2 linked regions of the Homo sapiens genome follow. The protein of the gene in region 2 purifies or fractionates together with the protein of the main gene of each other region. This does not show direct contact. Each region holds a gene or a part of one and is shown on either strand. Other genes may lie near its edges.

Region 1 (4,032 bases), about 40 Mb from region 2:
AAAGAACTTTTATTAATTGATAGAGATTGTTACTCACATACTAATAAAAGACATGATGAATTTCTAACTTGAGTTTAATGTAAAATGAAGAGATCTCTTTTCATACTATTGCAGCTCTCGGAACTATTATTATACAGAATTTGCGACTATTATTTTTTATTTTCTTAAAATATTTCTAAGTATTCCAGTACTTTAATCAGGTTTTTTGTTTTGGGTTTTAACCTAAGAGAAACTGGATGAGTGGCTTTTATATTTTCTGAACAAACTTCATCATATCACTTCCAGATTTCATTATATGTTTACGTGTCAGTTTTTTCCCACTGGATTGCCATCTAATTTTTCATGATAAGGATTTTGTTATATTCACTTCTACATCTCCAGCACCTAGCGCACTACATGGTGCATAAGAGAAGTTTACTAAATCTTATGTGAACAAATGATTGCTGTTTAGCAGTCTGATAGGCATTTTTTTTAAAATTCCCTGGGTGGGGCTAGCAGAAACCTTAGATAAGCTAATTTGTGCATAAAAGAAAGCCAGAAATCCCATTAAAAAATTACCCAAGATGAGCTTTTAGAAAACCAGTTTTCTTCTGGATTGAAATTATAAGGGCTACTTCCATAAATGTGAGGCTATAAGCCCACCTTTGTCATGGGAATAGGGAAGTTTCCTTCAAGATACACAAACTGTAACTCTGATTATTCAGCCAAAATGTATTTCAGAGAGATCAGCACCTATCACACTCCCACAGGGAACAGTCTCAGGGTTAGCATAGACTCTGTTTTGTTTTATTTTTAACCCCGGGAGTCAGTTTCCATATTGAAACTTTTATAGCTTTTAATTTTCCAATAATAAAAACCACAGGTTAATGTTGAAGTGTGGAAACTTAGAACTGTTAAATGAACACAGTAAAAACTCTCTGTAATGCCACTGCCAAAATATAACTATGGAGGAAGAGTTAATTTGGTATGACTGATGACATCTCATAGTTAATAATTCACCCAGATATCATGGTGGAGTTTTCTCTTAGATACAGTATTTCCAAGAAAAGATGTCCTAAATGGTCTATTCAGGGCACTGCCATAATACTCTTCATTTGCCAGCCAACCTGGCTCACATACAATAGGCATTTATTCTGAGATGGGGTCTTTGCCTCATTTCGGGTATGGGTTGATAATTCTTAATAGCTCTCAGATTCTTTGCATTTCAGTGGAATATTGTTCAAGGTGTTAGACTTTATGATTTTTTAAAAAAGAGAAAGGACCTATAATAGAATAATGGCACCAGATGCCCAGCATTCCTTCAAAGACTGTGACATTCATTGGATGCTTTATATATTAAAAGAAAAAAACCCATAGCTTGAGTAGGGATCAAGTCAAATCATTTGATAAAAGTGAATGATGCTCATTGGCACAACTTAAAGAAACTATTTCTGGAATAACATTACCTACCTGGGGAGCGAGTTTAATTCCTTGGGGTTTTAATGTGACAGGATTCATTGGGGTGAGCTCCATCCCAGGTAAAATGTCATAGAGTTTGTCTTCTCTTTTGTCTCCTTTGACCTGGTATCCTCGACCCAGGCCTGTGTATGCCAAATAGCCACGGCCGCCCAGTCCTCTCACTCCCGCAGCCCCTACAGGTACATTCATGTAAATTTCTAGGAACGTAAGAAGGCATTAAACTGAATCAAACCACCAGAAAATCACCCTGAATCTTACTGTAATGGAAAAGTTAGCCCAATTCACGTTGATTATTGCCCTGAAGATGGGTGGGAGACTCTAGGATTCTAATGTAATGAAACTCAACATAAGGTAAGGTTTAACATAGGTGTCTCTCTTTTTTGAAAAACTACCTTCAGAAGAAAACAATGCCATTGATAAATACAATACTATTGATAAGTACACAAACAACTTAAAAATTTTGGGATAGAAAATTTGCAATTTTTGTCTTTAGGTAACCTTGATATTTTATACAGACTAATAAAGACTGGGAATGTATTTATTAGAACATTCCAACATAATGCGACCACTTATTTTGAAATCAGTCTTGCATAGAGACTGTCACTGATCAGTATATCAGAAATAAATTCTGGCTTCCCTAATTATCCCACTTCCAATGACTTATTGTAAAACAAACATTTAGAAAGCATGCTTTTAGGTTCACCATGCTCTCTGATGTTCGGTCAATGTGAGGCTTAAATTTCCATTGAGTTTCATGCATAGATTCCTTTTGATTTTTGTTTTGCCATGTTACTACTTTGATTTTATATTGGTGGCATAGAGATAAAAAATTAAATTGATTACCCTTCATCCATGAATATCATTCATTGATTCCTTTCTTGTTATAAGATAGGCATTTTTTCCCTTATAGTGGAGTTTGTTTTTTTTCGACATCATAACTGGTTGACAATTTGTATTTAATGTATGGATTGGTTAATGAGGTGATTTTATATTCTAAATGCATAATGTTGCAATGATATAATTTATTATCACATAGACAAGTTACCTTAAAGGAAATCTTGATTATTTCATTTGCATTACAATTTTGGGGCAAGTAATTATGAGTATGAAACTTTTAAGGCTGTTGAAGACTAGAGCTCCTAATATGATCAATTTAGTTATACTGAAAAGTAGTAAAACATAGTAAGATAATTGTTTCCACAGTAATCTAGATGTGCCTTTTTGCTTCTAAGTCAAACCCAAGAATAGACTTAAATGCACAGTTTATCGAATTGCCCAGATTCATGTCGTATTTGGAGGATAGAACTGGGATTCAGTTGGCATTAGCCACATCCTAGAAAAACTCATCTGAAGGAGCCAAAAAGACAGGGACAAGCTAGTTTCTTGGAAATAGAATAAAGGCTTTCTTTATCTTCTAGCTTTCTTGAAGAAATGGAGCTTGGAAAACTGCTCAAACATTTAGAATTCTTACAGGATTCAAATGTGAAATATTTATTGTTTTATTAGCAGTCTGATTGAGGGTTTTTTTTCTATTTGTTGTTCAGTTCTCCATGTATTAAAGAAATATAGTAATGTCCTTAATTATTTGGCTTCTAAGAAAGTATAACATATTTCCTGGAGGAGGTCAGATGAGAACATCTCATATGTCTGTTAGATTATATTTATAATAATTTGTGATTTACATATTAAGACAATGCCACTGAGTCACCATCAAATACACACATGCCTTGAAAGGGTTTTGCTATTTGAGGTAATTGGTTTCCACTGGACTATACTAGTCTATTCCAGAAGTGTTGTAATGAGCCACAGATGACTACACAGTGGTGGACAAGTGATATAGAAGAAGCTAACAATTATAGAACTAGGTTTTAGTTTGTGCAAATTTTATGGGCCCATGCAAAGTTTGAATCTGTGCACTAGGCTCATTTGCACAATGTTCTGATGACGTTTTTTCAATAACCAGTTGTAATGTGAAAAAGATTCCTATTAAAGGAAAACTATTGATATAATAGTTGATTTTTAATAAACAATTTTTCAGTGCTTTTCTCCAAGTGGACCCATCCAATGTATCTAAGGCTACTGCAATTTGAGTCATTTGAAATCTTGGGATTACTCTAAAGCAAGATCTGACTGGTGTTACCTCTAACAGAAGGGGCTCGGATAATGGCTCTGTTGCTGAGATGTCCTTTGGTGGCTGGGAAATGAAGACTGGGAATTGCTGCATAGGTCTGGGGGGCATAGAAGACAGGAGCTCCAAGGTAGGTTGTGGTGGGATCATAAACTTGGCCCAAAGAGTAGGTATACTCTCCTTGCAGCATGGTGCCCCTTCCACCTGTGCCTCGGGTATACCTAACATAACTGTCCTTGTCCACTGGTTTTGCTAGGGTGACTTCAATGGGGGAACCATCCAGCACCTGTTGTAGAGAGCAAAGAAATATCAACGCGAGATGATATGAAGATAACCAAGTGTGGCTGAGCCCTAATAACATGACTCCTTCTAAGTGTTAGACTATTTGCTGTAGGTTTATTGATTGTATCTTGTCATTTTATAGGTTTGTTTTGTATGCCAGTTGA
Region 2 (4,195 bases):
AGGTCTGATACTTTGTATTGCTCAATGCATCAAACTGGATTTAAAATTGATATGTAAGTGTCCATTTGCCTTCATAACCTCTAAAGATAGTTAGCTGTCATCACACAAGAATCTGGTGAGAAATAATTAAAATCATATTTTGTCTATATCATGTCTGATACATTTAACTATTTGTAACTTGGTTGTTTAACCCTCTGGTTTGTGTGATGGTATCCTCAGGCATAATTTGTGAGGAGAAAGCCCAGCTTCCTAGCACAGTTCTGATTTTTAGAAAGACAAAGACTGAAAATTACATATTTCAAACAAAACCATGTGTGTGTGCGTGTATGTTTGTATAGGTATATGGATGTATAGCTGTATAGACACATACATTACCCTAAAAGTTTAAGATGTCATTACAAAATCAAGTGAAGGTTTCTCTAAGAGGTAAACTATAAACTTTTGGTACGCAATTTATGATGTTGATTCAGAATGTGAAATATGCCATGAAGTCTTACATACTTGTGACTACACTGTGAAAAGTTTGCCACCCACATAATCAACAGTGAGAACGATCAATTAGAATGTCACCTTAGAAACGAATTAGTTTTCCAGAACTTATGCAAATCACTTAAAAATTAAACTCGCCAGCTTCTCTGTTTTTTCTGAGTTTGGCCATTTTTCTCAATTCTTGTTAGTAAATCAGTCACAAATCTTAAGTGGATATTTAAGCTTCATGGCCCTTACATTACAGACCTAACACTCGTGAATTCACTCAGCTGGTTTCTAATTATTGTGTTAAATACTAGGAAATGGCAGATTCATGATTATCGTTTGTGTAGAAAACGTGATTTATGACTTTATTTTCAGCCGCTTATACTTCTTAGTGTTTGCAAGATGACAGAAAAGGCAGTGCCATCGTGCAGAGACAGGTTTGTCTTCCTTAGGGCACTGCGATAAGTCCCTAAATGTCACTTGGGTCATAGATCTGATCTTTATTTTGCCTAAACCTCCTATATCCTTTCGGTGATCGCCCTTAGTTCCTGCCCGGGCAAGCACACCACACCGAGGAGCATCGAAGCGAACCCTCGGGCTGCTCGCCTCCCGCGGCTGGGCTCTGGGAGCGCGGCTCGGGTATGGAAGTGGAGCGGGCTTTGGCGCCTGGGTGGCCCTAAACCTACTCCGAGCGGCCACGGCGGCCTCTTGCCAGGGACCCCCGGGCGGGGGAGCAGAGCCAGGCGGGGAGCGGGTTTGCCTTCGGGGGCCCAGGGGACCCTGAGAAGTCTGGCCGTGCCCGGGCGGTGAGCGCGGAGGCGGCCCGCCCTGTGTCCCCGCGGGGCGGAGCCGGGTTCGGGGCCGCGCTCTGGGCCGGCGGGCCCGCAGGGGTTAAGCGGCGGCGGGCGCCCCGCGAGCTCCGCCCCCGCCCGCCGCACCTGGCGCTCGGCAGCCGGCCGCCCCGGCGCTGGATTTCGGAGGGGATTGGCGGAGCGCGAGGAGAGAATGTGACAAGTGCCGGCTCGGCGGCCGCCGGGGGAGGCCGCGCGCACCTGTCCCTGCCCGTCTCGCGCCGCCCGCGGCCGCTCGGACGCGCGCAGAGCCGCCCCCCGCCGCTGCCGCCGCGTGCGCCCGCGAACATGACTTCTGCCTTCAAGCTGGATTTCCTCCCGGACATGATGGTCGAGGGCCGCCTGCTCGTTCCTGACAGAATGTGAGTGGCGCCGCGTCCCGAGGCCGGGCGAGCGGGCGTCCTCCTCCCAGAGTCGGCGGCGCGAAGGGGACGGGCGTCGCCCGCAGCTCCCGGGCGCGACTCGGCCGCTTCGGATCCGTCGCCTCCCTCGGCCTTCGGAGGCCGGCACGGGACGCGGGAGGAGGGAGCGGGTGCGGACGAGCAGCGCCGGCGGTGCAGGGCGCGGGGCTTCCCGGAGGGACGAGCGGAGCGCGGCGTCCCGGGGACCGGGCGGGGTCCGCGAGTCCGGGTGAGGACCAGCGGGCCGAGCGCGGCGTCCCGGGTCCCCGCGGGGTGAGTGGGGGACGGGCGGGGTCCACCGACCGGCGCGAGGACCCGCGAGCAGGGTGAGCGGGGCGCGGCGTCCCGGGGTCCGGGCGGGGTCCATGAGTCCAAGTGGGACCGGCGAGCCGGGCGCGGAGTCCCGGGGTCCGGTGGGGCGGGCGGGGACCGGGCGGGGTCTGGGGGTCCGGGTGAGGACTGAGCGGAGCGCGGCGTGACGGGGACCGGGCGGGGACCGGCGAGCGGGCACGGGGTCCGGGCGGGGTGCGCGCGTGCGAGTGTGCACGCTTGTGTCATTTGAAATGCGGGGCTGACGGAGCTCTGGTGGCCGGGGGGAAAGAGCTCTTCTTACCAAATTACCCGCTCATCTGATTTAATATTTGCAAAGATCCTTTCCTAAGGTGGGAGAGGGGAAGCGGAGACAAGGAAGGGCGGGGGGATAATTATAAAGCGTGAAACTAGCCAGGTGTACTTTATTGCAGAAATTAGAGGTAATTTTTACGTAATCATGGTTTGTCTGATATGCAGTCTGTAATTTAATAATTAATGTGATTCTGGTTGTTTTACATGTCGTCAAACTAAGGTAGAGCGTTTATTGGAAAGAAGTAGAGAGCTGGGATTCCTGAAGAAAGGAAAGTATGTCTAATTTTTAGCTGGCTTGATAGGAAAGTTTTTATTAGCTCGGAGGGGTCAGTAGGATCTATTTGTATTTCAGGCATGTTAGGAAAAGGAAACCTAAAAAGAGAGAAAAGATTGCCAGAGTGGGAACAAAAGGTCTGTGTCCTTTTTCGACATTTTAAGTTTTCTCTGATCAGGCGAGAAATTGGATAGCGGATCTAAGCTGTAATTAATCTAATCCAGTGAGAAAAAAATGGATTGGTATGGTAAGAGTGCGTGTAAAATGTTTCCTGTTCTACCCACTGTAGGACTTAACATCCCTATTCTGTCTGGCACCTTATGGTACTCTGCAGTATTGAGGTTATTCCAGGCTTTATGATCCATTTCCCTGGCAACTAACTTTCCCCTGCCATGCTAGATTCTTTTTCTAGCATGTTAAGTGTTATGAGTTAAGAGATTCTTGAGAAACTCTGCAGTGGCCAATTATTTGAGCTGCAAGGACCTCCCCACCAAAAAAAAGGAGGGGGGTGGAGGAGGGGGATGATAGAATCTGTTATGCAAATTGTCTTTTGAGTCAATATTAAGAATGTTAATTTGCTTGTACACGATCAGGTTCATCTTTTCCGTATTCTGTTTTGGTAGTTTTCTCCGAGATGTGAATCATGATTAGTAACATTTCCACGATATTTGTTTTAAGAGACCTCTGTCCTGTCCCCCATCTTAAAATATATACCTGTATAGACACGTAATACATGTTTGCACATGAGCTAGTATGAAAGTTTTATGCGTTTTCTCCTCTAGAGGCTAGAGGGTCCAGGCTAAACTGAAGAATTCGCCTAATCATGATTTTGAATTTATGGTCACCTGCTACTTAAGTGACCATAATATAGCTAAGCTGATGAATGCTCTATGAATTTAAAGTGTTAATGGCCTCAGAAAGATGCAGTTTCTTGTCAATTAAATTATGAATTACAAAAATTTAATTTATCCTTTTCATTTGGTGGATGAATGTGGCCTGTTCAAGCGATTTGCTCTGAACTGAGCCCTTGTGCCTTAGCCATGGAGTCTCCTATGAAAATCCTAACGTGACTTCCACCTCACTTCTCTTCCAAATGTTAGTTATTTCCAAATGATAGCCTTTGGAATCAAACCCAAATTGTTCTCAGCGTTTGTCAGCTGTTGCTTAATTGAACTAAGGGAAGAAAAGAGGATTTGTAAATGATAGTTTTATTATTTGTTTCCTAAATAGCTATTGTGTGTCTCCATAGCCCTGAGAACACTAGAGCATGCTTTTATATATCGTTCATAATTAACTCACATTAAATACTGTATCTGGGGATAGAGGTGTGTGGGGGGGAATATGACAAGTTGAAAATGCCTGAAATCCGCCTAAGTTGTAAGTTTTATTGCCATATTCACCCAGTTGAGAAGATAGCCATGCGGATTTATTGTTTTAGGGACTGGTTGTCATGTGTGGTATATTGCCATTTGGACTAAATTGCAGTCGGCTAGATATTGGCCTGTTCCTAAAAGGAACTTAAATAAAGCATAGGGGCTTTTCTGCTGTTGATTTTTCTAAAGCAGTAGAAT

The links.
Region 1: the proteins of CELF2 (region 2) and A1CF purify together in Homo sapiens (affinity purification with western blotting; one study listed by BioGRID). This does not show direct contact.

Annotation. Positions count from the first base shown.
Region 1 is NC_000010.11:50,812,408-50,816,439, forward strand, and holds part of A1CF (APOBEC1 complementation factor), read right to left. Parts: intron 3,873-4,032; coding exon 3,599-3,872; intron 1,656-3,598; coding exon of another isoform or gene 1,632-1,655; coding exon 1,450-1,631; intron 1-1,449. UniProt on the Homo sapiens protein: Essential component of the apolipoprotein B mRNA editing enzyme complex which is responsible for the postranscriptional editing of a CAA codon for Gln to a UAA codon for stop in APOB mRNA.
Region 2 is NC_000010.11:11,016,477-11,020,671, forward strand, and holds the start of CELF2 (CUGBP Elav-like family member 2), read left to right. Parts: upstream 1-1,395; 5' UTR 1,396-1,613; coding exon 1,614-1,687; intron 1,688-1,795; exon of another isoform or gene 1,796-1,999; intron 2,000-2,021; exon of another isoform or gene 2,022-2,052; intron 2,053-2,279; exon of another isoform or gene 2,280-2,388; intron 2,389-4,195. UniProt on the Homo sapiens protein: RNA-binding protein implicated in the regulation of several post-transcriptional events. Involved in pre-mRNA alternative splicing, mRNA translation and stability.